3 separate regions of the Homo sapiens genome follow, and all the other regions are reported to be linked to region 1. The links are microRNA targets in miRTarBase. Many come from high-throughput screens and were not tested one by one. Region 1 holds a microRNA gene; each other region holds the end of a gene's coding sequence.

Evidence for each region. The annotated mature microRNA hsa-miR-1911-3p reads CACCAGGCAUUGUGGUCUCC and lies in region 1 at 2,889-2,908, opposite strand. An mRNA with a match to its seed (bases 2 to 7 or 8) in the 3' UTR can be bound and repressed. Matches are read on the target gene's strand: a 7mer-m8 pairs with bases 2 to 8, a 7mer-A1 pairs with bases 2 to 7 and ends in A, and an 8mer does both.
Region 2: miRTarBase lists TEDC1 as a target of hsa-miR-1911-3p. Seed matches in the 3' UTR shown: 7mer-m8 at 4,201-4,207.
Region 3: miRTarBase lists SAMD4A as a target of hsa-miR-1911-3p. Seed matches in the 3' UTR shown: 7mer-m8 at 2,705-2,711.

Annotation. Positions count from the first base shown.
Region 1 is chrX:114,760,915-114,766,139 of GRCh38, reverse strand. It overlaps MIR1911 (microRNA 1911), which reads right to left and starts at 2,956; the gene lies at 2,877-2,956. The region is part of intron 4 of HTR2C (5-hydroxytryptamine receptor 2C); the gene reads right to left. All of the region lies in intron 3 of LOC105373313 (a long non-coding RNA gene), which reads left to right.
Region 2 is chr14:105,498,161-105,503,385 of GRCh38, reverse strand. TEDC1 (tubulin epsilon and delta complex 1) reads right to left here. Exons shown (of 9, transcript NM_001367178.1): 9 at 4,138-4,769. The coding sequence ends at 4,440. Among named protein-coding and RNA genes, the nearest start is that of TEDC1, 9.5 kb to the right of the region's middle. RefSeq lists a silencer at 4,280-4,574.
Region 3 is chr14:54,788,152-54,793,376 of GRCh38, reverse strand. It overlaps SAMD4A (sterile alpha motif domain containing 4A), which reads right to left. Exons shown (of 13, transcript NM_015589.6): 13 at 65-4,461. The coding sequence ends at 4,433. Among named protein-coding and RNA genes, the nearest start is that of MIR4308, 87 kb to the left of the region's middle.

The DNA of each region.
Region 1 (5,225 bases):
AGTTCAAGCTCTTATTCCAGGCACAAATTCTTTGCATAACCACTAGTGATGGCTGGTGGTGTCCTCTCTTTGAAAGACAGAGCTTTTATTGAACCCTAAGCTGATTCTTTCCGTATCTTTTACCATTTATCTTGCTTTTGTCTTTGGAAGCGTATGAGTATGAAAATCCTTCAAGTCTTTGAAGATATATCATGACCCCTCCCATTTCTCCTTAATTCCATTTCTAATTGCATGATAGCAGAGGCATTGCAATCTGGGCCTTCAAACTGTCTTAGGCAGGTGTTAATAGAGTCTGAACTGAACTGAAATAAAATTATTTTGAGTAAAGCTATAGTTCTAAAACAGTGTGTATCAGCTAGGACCATGTACAGTACTAATAAGTACACAATAACTATTAACTATTAGTATTATGGTAGGGCTTGGAGAAATTACCCTTAAATATACAAAAGACTATTTCCTTAGTTATGTTACTCTGTGTCTCTAGAGCCATATCAAGACATCAAGCAAGAATCAATATTTGTTGTTGTTGTTGTTGTTGTTTTTCAGGAACATAGTATGTTCAACATTTCCATGGGTTGGTGGCAGAAATAGCACTCTGGCTAGCTGGGAGAATGGGACCTTTAATACCAGTGATGTGAGGATGGATATTAGCCTTTTGTGGCCCTAAAATGAGGTAAAATTGTATACCTCAATTTCCCTCATCTGTAAAGTGGGAAAAATACTTATATGTTGGTTGTGTGGATTGAATAAGATAAATGGACAGAGTAAGTGTTCAATTAAAGTTAGCTATTATAGTACTTGTTATAATAGCTTCCTTCACCACCATCATTCAACCCAGTTAAAAGGCTCTTGGCATAGACATACAGGCTTTGAGGGAAAAGTTCATGAAGTAAGGACTGAGAACTTAGCTCTCTAGGAATTGGCACATTAGCAGACAATATAAAAATCACTGAAAGTTTCCAAGGCTGGGCATGGTGGCTCATGATTGTATTCTCAGCATTTTGTTAACCTGAGGTGGGTAGATTGTTGTAGCCCAGGAGTTCACAACTAGCCTGGGTAACACAGTGAAACTCTGTCAAAAGAAAGGAAAGAAAAAAAAAGAAAGAAAGAAAAAAGAAAGAAAGAAAGAGAGAGAGAAGGACGGAAGGGATGAATGGAGGGAAGGAAGAAAGGAAGGAAGAAAGATAGAAGGAAGGAAGGAAGGAAGGAAGGAAAAGAAAGAAAGAAAGAAAGAAAGAAAGAAAGAAAGAAAGAAAGAAAGAAAGAAAGAAAGATTGATTCCATGAAGGAGTGAGATTTAAGAAGAAAAAGGAAAATGAGGAGAATCTTCAAATCACCAGAACTGGACACTACAGAGGGAATTCTAATCTTTCTTGAGAAGACAGAGGATGTCTCCTCTTAAGGAAGAAAACGTAGGAGGTGCGTCCCATTGTTGGCAGTAGAATACTGATAGCATTTAAACTTTTGGTGCATTGTTTTCTTTATGTATTAAATAGGGATAGTACATGTATAATACTTGGAACAATGTCTGGCCCTGAGCAAAAACTCAAGTGTTGGCCGTTGTTATTTAGCTTTGACAGTGCTGCCTATCTGCCTGTAGTGAAATTATTTTTGCAACCAGAACTGGAATGTTAACTACAATTACATTATTTATTTATTTTGTGCATTTATTGGGGAATTAAACCAGTAATTAATATGTAAAAGTTGTACATTTCTTTTACTTTTTTTTTTTTTTTTTTGAGATGGAGTTTCACTCTTGTTGCCCTCAGGCTGGAGTGCAATGGTGCGATCTCGGCTCATCGCAACCTCCACCTCCTGGGTTCAAGAGATTCTCCTGCCTCAGCCTCCTGAGTAGCTGGGATTACAGGCATGCGCCACCACACCCAGCTAGTTTTGTACTTTTAGTAAAGACAGGGTTTCTTCATGTTGGTCAGGCTGGTCTCGAACTCCCAACCTCAGGTGATCTGCCCGCCTCGGCCTCCCAAAGGGTTGGGGTTACAGGCATGAGCCACCGCACCCAGCCAAAGTTGTACATTTCTAAGGAGGATAGAAGAGAGAAACAGCAAAGGATAACCAGAGGTAGAAGACTCTAGATATAAGAACAAAAATCAGGACCTCTGGACTGTATTCTTCCACATATGTCATTATAATTTAAATATACTGATACCATTATTCTTTTTGTATTTAGAATGGAAACTTACCCGGTAAAGAAATTTTTTTCTCTAGGATAAAGATCCCGCAGTGAAGTGATTAAGGATATTGTTAAAGGGAAAAGTGATATTGGGAGAAGACATTTCAAACCCAAAGTAATGATTCACAGGTGAAGATATGTGGGCCTGGGAATTTCCAAGAATATCACCTCATGAACTGATTTGCAAAGAGGAAGGAGGCCTTCATCTATCCATTAAAAAGAAAAAGACCAGATATAGGAGTAGATGCTAGGTATATACAAGTACACAAGGCTGACAAGTTACCTGCTAAGCTTTTCAGAGGGATGTTTTTTGGGTGAATGCCTGAGGACAGGAATTAAGGCATCAGTGTATAGACTCAAGATCAGCCCTGTGGAATATGTAAGCCCTGTGGATGATAACCATAAGTAACAAAGAAAGATAAAACAGAGATAGCTGTTTTACAGAGGGACTTTGTGAAGGGGACAGGGACAAGTATTGCTTTTTCAATGTTTAGATAACAAAATGTGCCACAGTTATAAAGGGGCATTTTCCTAATTTATGCAAGGAACACAGCTAAGTACAATGAATACTGACGCAAATGCAGCACACCTGGTATCTTGAGGGTTTGTAGATTTGGCAGCCCCGGGTGACAGCACTCTGGAGAAGTAACCAGCATTCTCATGGAAGGCACCGGTGGCGAAATGGCAAAGCGTCAGCGGAGACCACAATGCCTGGTGGGAGACTGTGGATGCCCAACAGACATGGCGGTACTCAGCAGATGCCGAGCAAATGATGATGGATACCCAGTGGCAGATGATGGATGCCCAGTGGGAGATGATGAATGCCAAATGGGAGATGATGGATGCCCAGTGGTAGATGATGAATGCCCAGCAGATACTATGAATGATGACGGGTGATGGTGGATACATGTGTGCTCCATGAAAGCCCAGAATAATTGCAGCAGTGCATGATGAAAATTGATTTGCTCATGATCACACGAGAGAACCACTGGTGACTTCTAGAAGTACTTAGGGGAAAATGAGTGTACTTTTTCTAGAGGGCTAGAGGACCTTTGTTAGCACAGGGGTGAATGTGGAGTATCAACATGAAAGCTATTTCTTCTGTGCTCACAGCTGTGATGCCCATCACAAATGTAAACACTTTTAGGGACCAGGTAGGTAATATCAGTGGGTAGGACAGCTGGGTATAAGAAGATGGGGAGTGGTAGAAAAGATAGCAAAGTTGGAACTCACTCTTAAAATGTATTCAAATGATAAAGTTTAAAAATTGTTGGCTAGGCCAAAACAAAATTTATCTGCAGGCAAAATTCAGCCAAAGAGCCACTATAACAATATGTTCCAATACCCTAGGGCTTAATATGCCATCTATCTAGGGATATGGTACCACCTTTATACACACAAGAAAATTGTTTCACTTTGAGAATGACCTCTAGTTATACAAATTTTGGAGGTATTAATATATATGAGAAGATTGTCTTCTGCTATTCATTAACCAATTCGAAGAAATCAGGGAGATTTTATTTATTGCATGTTTATTTTCATAAACTGTATATGTTTTGAGAACATTTAGGACAACTTGGACTCCAGTGAGTAACTTTTGATGGAATCCTTGAAAATCCCCAGGGATGACAGTGGAAAATATGATGGATCTACACTTTCTAGATCCATTCCCAAACCCTCTTTCCCAAATATAGTTCTGGTCTAGGTTTGACAATATCTATCTTTTACAAAAAGGCATAAATCTCTAGCAAAAGGGGGTTTGGATTTAAGGCATTCTTCAAAATAAATGAAGACAAAATTACAAAATCCAGAAAGATTTATAAGCATATATTCCATTTTAATGGAATAATTAAATTTCAAAGATAATTCACTGTCATGCATATATATCTAGAAAACCATGTATATATACACATATATGTGTACAAATAGTATATATACTATATATATGTGTATATATAGTATATATACACGTATATATACACATATATGTATATATACACGTATATATACACATATATGTATATATACACGTATATATACACATATATGTATATATACACATATATATATATATAGAGAGAGAGAGATAGAGAGTAATCTTTTGGGGGGAGGGTGCCTTATTTATCAGTTCTATGTTTTAATGTAGTTATTCATTAAAGGAGCATTCTAAGTGACATATAACATGAAGCAATGACTACAAACAAGGACTTTGGAGTTTTATAGGCCTGTGCTTAATAATCAGTTGTGTTACTGAAAAGTTCTAAGGTCTTGGACACATTACTTATCTCTTCTATACATTACTTTCCTTTATTTAAAATATGAAAAAATAGATAATACACATTTCTTTGAAAGGGTTTGGAAGAGTTAAATGAGTTAACGCATGTGAAATTTTTTGCAGAATGCCTGGGGTTATAGTATATTCTCAGTTAATGATAATTATTTTTAATGTAAAGATGAAATGGGTTGATTGTTGTCTAGGGCTTTACAAAGTTACTAGTCAACAATTTTAGTTCTCTCCCTTCCAGTTCTCAAATCCTTCCAAATTCCAATTAACATACTTAACCGGTTGGTTAGTTCCTTTTTACATAGATAATCTTATATTTTGATAAAAAACAACCCTTTTATAACTTCCACAGGAATTTTAGCTACCAGACTTATTTCTGATCCACAGGTTTTTTGACTCAGGTGAACAGAAAACCAAGCCTAATACATTTGCATTCTCAAGGGATTCAAATTATTTAGGTAGTTATTACTACTAGCCCTAACTTAGAAAGATAAGCAAAAAACTATAAAGAATTTTAAATATCTTAAAATTATATTGATGTTTACTTGCTTTAGTTCATTAAAATGGCTGTAATTACATTATGTAATTTGCAATTTCTGAAAGCACTTCCTCTAATTAAGAAAAAAAATGCTACTAAAATGGAGAATGCATTTCCATAACAAAGTAACCTAAAATCTACTTCTGGCACAGATGTTTGATTGCATGGGTTGCATGCTAGTAATGAAGTGAGAAACCTATGTCTCCCACATC
Region 2 (5,225 bases), not on the chromosome of region 1:
CCCCTCTGCCCTGCCTGTGCTTCCTACCACTGTGCAGGCCCAGGCTCAGGCCTCAGACCCAGGCCCCTCACCAGCCCCAGGCCCCTCACCAGCCCCGGGCCCCTCACCAGCCCCGGGCCCACCGCACCCTGGGGCCCTGCCCTGCCCTGCCCTGCCTCCCACCCCGGCTGAGCCCACCCACACCCTGCATTCTCACATTCCATTCTCCAGCCCCAAATTCCAGGTTCACGCAGCCAACTGCCCACCTGACACCCACTAAGATGCCAAGATTGTGAGCAGGTCAGAGCCGGGCTACCAAGCAGCAGTGCCCACCCCAGCCTGCCCAGTTCTCAAACCACCATGGGCCCAGCCACCACAGCTCCCTACATCACACCCGCAACCAAGACAGCGGCCAATCCTGTGCCCCAGTGGGCCAGAACCCACCTAGTCCAGCTGTCCTCCAAACCCACCTCCTCTGAGCCACAGAACCTCCCCACCAGCGGATGGGGGCAGAAGCCTGGGCCCTGCCTACTCTCAGCTTGTGCCCCCCTTGGGGCTGAGCCCCGGCGGGCACCCATGTCCTCCAGCTGTGAGCACTTTCCTCTATGGTGTTTGCTCTTCCCTCTGGGACATGGCCATGGGGCCCCTCAGAATGGCACATATTGGGCACCACGTGACTTCAGGTAGAATGACTGAGGGACCAGCCCAGCACAGCCAGGCAGGGCAGCGAGAGGCCGGGCAGGACACCCTCCGACCACTCTGAGGACAGGGATGGCTGCAGAGCCAATGCAGGCTCACACGCAGGGACAGACAGCTGGAGGCTGAGCCCAGGCGCAGGACTTCAGAGCCACCAGCCACAACCACACCCAAGGCCATGGGGTAGACAAGGGCAGTGTGGACTGAGCGGTCAGGGTCCCCATGAGATAAACAGGAACCACTCAGAAACACTTCTCTCCTGCCAGGAGCGGTGGCCTACGCCTGTAATCCCGGCACTTTGGGAGGTAGAGGCAGGCAGATCACTTGAGCCCAGGAGTTTGGGACCAGCCTGGGCGGCATGGTGAAACCCTGCGTCTACTAAAAATGAAAATACAAAAATTAGCTGGGCATGGTGGCACGCGCCTGTAGTCTCAGCCACTCAGGAGGCTGAGATGGGAGGATTAGTTGATCCCGGAAGATCGAGGCTGCAGTCCCAGCCACTCAGGAGGCTGAGGTGGGAGGATGACTTGATCCCGGAAGATCAAGGCTGCAGTCCCAGCCACTCAGGAGGCTGAGGTGGGAGGATGACTTGATCCTGGAAGATGGAGGCTGCAGTGAGCTGACTGTGCCACTGAGTGACAGAGCAACATCTTGTCTCAAAAAAAAAAAAAAAAAAAAGAGAAACCCTCCTGTCCAACCAAGGCGGGACTTCAGAGGCCGTAGGACACATTCCCTGGGCTCCAGGGGGAGGTGCGACCACCACAGGCCCCAGAGGTTGTGATCCTGACCTGGCCGGAGTCCCAACCAGCCTCATCCCTCAAGGCAGGGTCAGCCAGGACCAGGTGAAGGAGCCCTGAAGTAGTGCAGAAAGGGAAGCAGAGGCCAGGAAGGCTGAGCCAGCCGGAACAGAATAGGCAAGCGTATGAGACACTGCACTTCCATCTCATTAATCGTTTTTTCTTTTTCATATAGGGTCTCACTCTGTTGCCCAGGCTGGAGTGCAGTAACAAGATCATAGCTCACTTGGCCTCATAGCCTTGGTCTCCAGGCTCAAGCGATCCTCCTGTCTCGGCCTCCCTTCTATGTAGCTGGGACTACAGGCACATGCCACTACACCCAGCTGCTTTTTTTATTTTTTGTAGTGGTGGGGCCTCCCTATGTTGCCCAGGCTGGTCTTGATCTCCCAGGCTCATGCAATCCTCCCATCCAGGCCTCCCAAAGCGCTGGGATTACAGGCATGAGCCACTGCATCCAGCTGCACCACCTCTTAATAAACATTAGTTTTGGCCGGGCACAGTGGTTCATGCCTGTAATCCCAGCACTTTGGGAGGCCGAGGCGGGTGGATCACCTGAGGTCAGGAGTTCAAGACCAGCCTGACCAATACGATGAAACCCCATCTCTACTAAAAATACAAAAATTGGCCGGGCATGGTGGCGCACTGCTGTAATCCCAGCTACTCAGAAGGCTGAGGCAGGAGAATCGCTTGAACCCGGGAGGCGGAGGTTGCAGTGAGCCGAAACTGCGCCACTGTACTCCAGCCTGGGTGACAAGAGCAAGACTCTGTCTTAAAAAAAAAAAAATTTCTAGTTTTGTTGAAGTTTATTGCACCTTCCAGTAAGCGCACTTGGTCTCACGCGCCAGGTGACCTCTGCTGTTTCCTGTGAGGCCATCTTCGCCTCTGTCTTCCTGGGAAGCAAACTGCACTGTCCTTACACAGATGCTGGCTCGTCCAGGGTGCAGGGCCCTACTGCCCCAGCCAGGCCGACACCGTGGGCCTCCAGGCTGTTCCGTGGGTCTGGGGCAGGTCGCAAGACAGAAGGGAAAAGCTGCAGCTGGCCTTAAGACAGGAAGTCTATGGGGACAGAGGGGATGGGGGTCTTGAGGATGACTCGGGCTCCTGAAGGCAGGGGAGGGAGGCAGGAGAGTGTCAGAGAGGCAGTGTTGTGAGGACCTCCATGCCTGCTCTGAGCTGGGGGCCACACAGCCCTGCCTGCCCATCCAGCTTTAACCCTGTGGACTGGCAACCCCCGACCCACAGAACAAGAGGGCGTGACTTCAGGCGACTCGAGCCACTGCATGTGTGATAACAACTAGAGCTGAAGGCCAGGGTCCCATCCCTGCTCCATCATGACGGGCAGCACTAGGGCACCCTGCCGGCTTCCCTCCCGCAGGCCCTGGCCTCTCAGGCCCTCTCCACCGCCAGCATCATGGGGGCACACGCGCACCCAGGACTTGGACTGCCCTGAATTCACGCATCACATCGAGAGGTGACAACTCCATGACAATAAGCCTGCTTTTGTGCTCGTAAAAATCAAGTCCCCCAGGCCCGTGAGAGTCCTGGTTCTGTGGCAGTTTATAAAAAGCAGGGCTTCAAGTGGACTTGCTCCCAGCCCAAGAAGAGCCCTGTCCGGCAGTCGAGGGTTGCTGAGAGCACGGGGGACTTTCAGAGGCTGCAGGTGGAGGAGGGTTGAGGTCTGAGGGCCTGGAACAGAGCTGGAACCAGCAGGTGGAGGTGGCAGGAGCCCTTAGGAGGAGCTGGCGGAGGGGCCGGAGGGTGGCGCAGGCCAGGGAGCATTTGCACAAATCCTGGTGGCCCACAGGAGGCCCAGCTGCATGAGAGGGTCAGAGAGGTGCTCCTGAAAGGGAGGCCTTGCTGGCCACGGCCAGGTCTTGCCGGTGCTCCTGGGTCCCATGCACCGGAATGGGAAGGCAGGCGGTCTAGGCGTGTCCACCCCTGGGACCAAGGAGGCCCAGACAGGCTGAGACTGGAGCTGGAGCCCCAGGTGTGTGCTGTCACTCAGGCACATGCCCCAGTGAGAGCATGTTCTGGCAGGGGGAATGGACGTGGCCTCGGGGCAGGGCCGGCAGGAGCCTGGAGGTGGCCCCACAAGCCCCATCGTCTGCCCACCTCAGGTCAGAGTCCGACAGCCCCAGAAGAGAGGGGAGCCCGGCAAGGCAGGCAGGGCTGGAGGCCTCAGGGCCACCTGTGTCTGCTGGTGGGGGGCGGGGGGGGTGCCATGAGGCCGACCCTCCTTCCGCCAGGCTGAGGCACGTCCCCCGGACACAGATGGCTCTTTGTCAGGGATGAGCTGAGCTTGCTGAGCAGCCTCTGGAACAAAGCCCCTCTGTCCATGCTGTGCCTCCCCACCCGGAGCACCACCTCCCGGGAAGGAGCAGAGCCCCGGGCTCCCATCCGGCGCACCCACCAGGCACAGCCTTGGCCGGAGGTGGGGGCAGCTGTGCTCACAGCCCAGGGCCAGGCCCACAGCGGGAGCCCAAATGAAGGGGGGCGGGGCCGAGATAATCCCGCTCCAGGGAGGCCTGTGCCACCTCCCCGTGGTCCTGCCACTCACCAGTGCTGGGGTATGCATGTCCTCCAGCACCTGGCCAGCCCTACACTGGCCACCACTGCCCAGGGGCTCCTCCACGCTCCCACCCCCAAACAGGGAAACCCGACAGGGTGGCAGGGGGAGGGCCAGCGGCAGGAAAGCTGCTACAATTTATTTCCGAGTCCCCTCCAGACCACCAGGCTGAGCCTGTCACGACCTCCTCAAGGGACCAGCCATTCCTGTCCCCAGTGCTGCTAGCCACAGGCCTGGGATCCGGCCAGAGTCAGCCCAGCCCCACCCCTGGAGCGAGCATGTGACGTGGGCTCTGCATCTGCATCGTCCCTGCGGCCACCTGGCCTTGGAATCTGCTCCTCCAAGACCCAGCCAGGCTGGGCCAGGGCAGGCTTCCCACACGAGGGCCCGTCGACAGGCCCTCAGCGTCCAGGTGGCGGGATCCAGATGAGACCAGGGCGGGCTCCCACCAGCCTGGCCAGTTCCTGCCGACACTGTCCCTGTAGTCGACGTAGCACCGCCTCCAGGCAGGCCTCCTGGCTCCTCAGCGTCCTGATCACCACAGCTGCCCGCAGGTCCCGGTCCCCTGCTGCCCCATCCTCTCGTCTCACCAGCCGGTGTGGCCCATGGGGCTGGGCCGGGCCACCGTCTCGCTCCCAGCACTGCTGTAGAGCTCCCAGCTCCTTTTCCACAGCCTCCCGAGAGGCCCGCCGCGCGGCACTCCACTCTGGCCCCCGTCCACAGCCTCCAGCCTGCGTGGGACACAATGGCAATGGCTCTGTCCCCCCAGGACACTGGCCTCAGGCTCCCTGAGCATTCCCTGAGCCCAGACTCAGGTGCAGGCGCTGCAGGCATGCGGGAAACGCCCATGCTCTTCAGAGAGGCTTACTGAAAATTTTAAGGGGAAAATCATGCCTGCAATTTAAGTTAAAACTCTTCAGAAAAAGAAAATAGATGGAGCCAACACAGCCCCGTGTTCACAGCCATGAACCTGCGCAGGTTAAGCGGGCAGCTCTGAGTCTAGGGTGGAGGCCCAGGTGGCCACCAGGAGGTTAGACGGGTCCCAGGCAGGTGTGGAGGAGTGACTACTACCGTGTGATGCATGTGTGGCGGACGCATGGGAGCAGCAGGGCCCACACAGCACGGGCTTCCCTCCCTCATGCAAAGAATCAGACAACAGACCTCCCGCAGGAGGGGCGGGGGCTGTC
Region 3 (5,225 bases), not on the chromosome of region 1:
CCAGGCCTCAGTTCTTATTTTCTATTCAATCATGTATGTTGAAAAAAAGAAAAAGACACACCAGTGTTACAAAACCTTGTATTAATCATTTCCCTTCACTTTCAATATAACGTTGATATGAAATATAGCCATGATTCTTAGTTACATGGGAGGAAATGAATAATAAATACATTGTAGCAAGTTTAAACCACAAGGGTGTTTCACTGGTAACAACATTTGAAAACTGTACACTTGCAAAGAACAGCATCTTCAAACATTAGTATATCTGTATATCAGTAAAGCTTTTACATGTAACAAACATGCTCTTTCCATATATGACAAATTTAAAAAATATGCATTGCTTGGCAACATGAACTAGGCAAAAATATTTCTTTGTTCACTAACTTTATACAGGAAAACAGGACGAAAGGCATGCATGTACAATACAGATGCCTGCACAGGGCATGCAACAAAAGAAAGCTTTTTAAAAGTCAGCTTACATTAGGCATAAATACATGAGGATTATATATTAATAAGGGAGGAAGTTTTCTGTTCGACATTATTAACATTCCTGTTTTCTTCCTATTCCTCCCAGAGGAATACACATTCACCTTTAAGTAAAGATAAAGGAATTACAAAAAAATAAAACTCACTTTGCAAACATCTCTGATGACTTGTAAAAAAAAAAAAAATCAACATTAGTGTTATCACAGCTCCATGTGCAAATTATCCTTCTGCAGGTTCTTCTTGTAACAGGCACACCTGAGCGCCTTGGTCAGGCTGCTTCCCCAGGCCCAAGCTGGAGCTGACTGCTACAGACATCTCCAGGGGACCAATGAGGCCAGGCCTGCTTTTCCTCCCCTTGCCCGCCTTCTGGTTGCATGCTTTTGCATTCAGCCCAGCTCAGCCCCCAAGCCCAGGCTCCTGGGGAATAACATCTACAACCTTGCACCGGCAGTAGCTACAAGAGGTGCAGAAGAACAAAAGATCCGGAGAAGGCTCCCATCCCGTAAAAGGCAGCCAAGGACACCTCAAAAGAAACCCTTGTTTCCCTCAGTGTCTCTTCAAACGAATGGGAGAGAGGGGGGCCCAGCTGTAGCTCCAATCCTGAGTACCAAAAAGGAACCCTCAATACACAGGATTTGAGAGCTCGGTGCAAAGAGCCGCCCGGACAGGCAGACCCAGCCACATCTATTTTGCTTGCTGGCTCTCGTTTAAAAAGTGAAAACTCAAAAGCATGTGAAAAAACAACATATCAGCAGCAATGTTTCATGTCTTGTACACAGTTCATGTGTTTCTTCCTACTGTTTCTGGTAAGAAGCCACTATGAATAAAAAGCACCAATAAAACATCATACATGATAATATTGTAGAACACCACTGTCCCTAGGACAATGTAGAGATGCCAAGTACACACTGCTTAAATCAGAACAAGGGGGGAAAAGCATGTAGTGAAATAGATTTTACTCTGAGATTTTAAAATTGTTACTATTTTCTTAATATAAAACAGTTGCATTTGGTGGGGGTCAATGGGTAAATACAAAAAAAGGCACTGCTGCTTTTATTACTAAATATCTGACTTCACAGCCTCATGCATGCAACTGTTTGATTCTTTTATAAATAAAATTCTTTTGCTTTAGGATTTTTAAATTGAGCTATATACCTGTAGTCAACACAGGACTCAAAACAAGGTGGGGACAGGGTCTTAAAATTTATCAAACACTCAACTTAAAAAAAAAATTAAAACACTAATAGCAAAACACAACTAAGTAGATAAATCTATACACTGTCAATGAAAAATAAGCTTTTCTTCTTTAAAAAAAGAATTATGTTGTTATTAATAACAGACTTTATCATGGTTACCAGCCATAGCAAGTTAATAAGTAACATATCCAAAATAATATCTCTAATAATCAGATAACCATTGTTTCTATATTCAGTGAAGGAATAAATAGAAATTCAGATTTGCAGATACTTTAAGGTCTTCTTCCTTTTAAAGGATTCATGCGAATGTGATTGTGTTCACAATCTGTTTTCTGAATAACATGAGTCTTTATGGATATATGTGTTTTTGCAGCAGATCCGAATGCTTTCCTTTCTCAGCAAGATGTGTAATACCATGGTTTTTTCTCCTCTTTATTCACTTTCTCAGTATCCTACAAACCCACATTCGCAAACCCTCTGGTCTTACCTTTGGCCTTCAACCTTTGACCTATTCTTCCTGCCTTACATGTGATCGTCCATCCCAACACATTCCCCAAGTAACACTAAGCTTGTTTAGAAAAGGGATGTGGGGGATGAATGTTAATGGCACTTGGTTAAAAATAATCAACTAAAAAATGCCATCTCTTTCTGCACATGGATTTGCATCTTTAGAACTTAGTCACCCAAGGAGAGGTCTGAACCTTTTTTTTTTAATTCAGCGAATGAAATTGTGGATTCAAGCCTTCTCTGCTCACGAAAGGCTTTCTATGGTTACATTGTTCTCACCTTCTTAGACTCAAAAGGGCTTCAAAAACCTGGTGGTGGCATCCAAGGCTGGGTTGGGTGCATGTTTTTGATCTTGAAAGTAAAAGAAAATTGTTCGGATTTCATTAAGGCCTTTTAGGTCTGTATGTAGTTCATTAGCTTTTAAAAAAAAAAGGGCAGTGATTTCCATAGTCTGATCTTCTGAATTTCAACTCTGACTTCACACACACACACACACACACACACACACACACACAACCAGGCACCCGACTCATCCATGTAACAAACAGGCCTTGTACCATCTCCCTGATCTTGCCTCTGGCTGAGCATTCATACCTTCATTTACACAACCTGATTTTCCACACAACTCCTCTTTGATTTCCTCTAATACCCTCCACTGTGTCAAATTCTGAAATGTAGCCTTTCTTGCCCTTCATAAACAGAGCTATTACTTTGTGGTAGGTACCACAGTTTCTCAATCTCCCACCAAGTAACGAGTGTCTTTTTCCTCCCCTCTGTGTGGATGGATAAATCAACTAACACAGCAAATCCCTAATTCATACTGTGCGGATAGCGCTGTCATTTCCATCTTGAAATCAACCTTTCCTACATCTTTCATCGCCCACTGGAGATGGCGGGGCTGTGCGGTGTGGGCCAAACATCTCCCTGCATGTGCTCTCTGGACTTGCTGACTGACCCCTCTGTACGCTGTTGCTGGGCCTTTCTCCCCTCCTCTCCCTCAGCAGTGACAGGTGAAGTAGATGCAGCCTCCAGGCTCCAGTTCCTACAAGCAACCCTAATGTAAAGGTTTTGAGCTCATTTTCTGGGTATCAAACCTCTCACAAGGGGAAAAAGTCCATCCTTGCCTTTTCTCCTCCAGTGGAACTTGTACCCACCTGTGTGTGTGTGGAGCAAGGCTGGGAGTGACAGGATAATGCCCCATGGGTGGGGTGGAAAGGGAGGGAGGCCTCTCCGTGACAAGCAAATCCAGCACAGAAAGAGGCTGCAGGATTCTTTGAGAATCTCTGGGTGCCCTGCGAGCAAACCCATAACTGATCACATGATGTCCTCATCCTTGTGCGCTCACCCAATGCTGTGCTCATTCCAGCCACGTCCATGTCCTTCAAGTCCACCCATACGCTCCTCCCACCTAACGGTGAAAGACGGACAGCTCAGGCCTACATGACTGCATCCATCTTCCCAAGAAGCAGAGCTTGGCAGCCGTTTTGAGAAGACAACTCTGCTGCTCTTATAAAAATAGAGGGAAAAAATGAATCCGTAACAACAACAGATCCTTTACGAAAACCATAGTATGAAGAGAGGTTCTATCCAAACTCTTTACACATTATGTACCCTTTAAAATTATTATGTAAACAATACACAAATCAAAGTTTAGCTGAAGTTTTGTTGCAGGGAATTTCTTCCTTCTTTCCCCTACTGCCATGGGCCCTCTCCTATGGCTGTTTCCAGCAGGGGCCTCAGGGACATCCAATCAGGATTAGATTGGATATAAAAGGGAAGCCACTATCTTGCTTTGGGTGCACGTGCCCGCGATATCCTTCTGTGGCCTGCCTGTGAAGCCAGGCCTTCCGAGAAGCCTCCCCAGGGCCAGGGCTTCTGCTGTCCTCTTATGTGTCTCCTATCTCTTTCATGGCAGTACTCTTTCCCCTGTCCCCGTTCCATCCAGAGAGCTACCTGCATTCCCTCCACCCCCCTCCCAGTCTCATAATTCCCTAGAGACCCCTCCCCACCCCACACACCAAACCATCCCATGACAGAAACAAATGACAAAATAACCAACCCCAGGTCTACTGATATGTTTACGAGGATGACCTACGCTCTCACAAAATCAAAACGGGAGAGGGACCAGGGGGAAAAAAGGCTGCAAAGTATCTTGGAGGATTCTGTGCAACCCTGAAGATGGCGGACACTGGACCCGCAGCAGTCGATTTCACGGCCAGCGCGGTCACTCTCGTCTTCAGCTTCTAGATGGTGGAGGTCCGGTCAACCCCGTCTGGGAGAGAAAGCAGCAAACGATGGGCACAGGTGAGCAAAACAATCCAGTTCGTGCCCACCTATGCCAACGCCATGCACGGTGGGCCTCCCAGCCTCTGAGGGCAGAGAAGGGCACCTACGTTCATGTGTTCACGCATTTACATACCCACCCACATGATATCTGGGGAACAGCTATTTTTGCCAGGAGCCATATTGAACCTGAGAACCAAGATGAAAATATCTAATCCTCACCTCCCAAGTACTTATATTTGAGGGTAGACACAGACATGTAGACAGACAATAATGCTATATGTGATCACTGCTGTAATGGAGTAGGTACCAAGAGAGCAGGATCGTGGAGGAAGGAATGATGGCTGCCCGGTTGGCCTGGGAAGTCAAGGACAGTTTCAGAGAGATACAAAGTGACTTTTGTAGCTGGTGCTGGCAGGAGGAGGAGGGTGGGGATGGTGTGCGGTGCATGCATAGGTGGGATGATAGGTCATCCGGTGGTGGAGCTGAGGGTGCGTTGGAGGTTTAGGATGAAGGATGGGGAATGCAGTAGAGGAGATGGGGTGGAAGAGCCAGGCAGGGGCTGCAACGGACACGCAGGTGGACCTGTCTAGCTCACATCCCTTTCTTTGGCAGCCTCTCCTTCTCAACCCACGTCCCTGATGAGACACTGGGGACAAGGTGGCTGTGACCCTGTCCACAGCTGAGCAGACCAGAGGGATGGACACATCTGACCCAAACAAATCCAGATTCTCTGTCTCGAGAATCTGATCA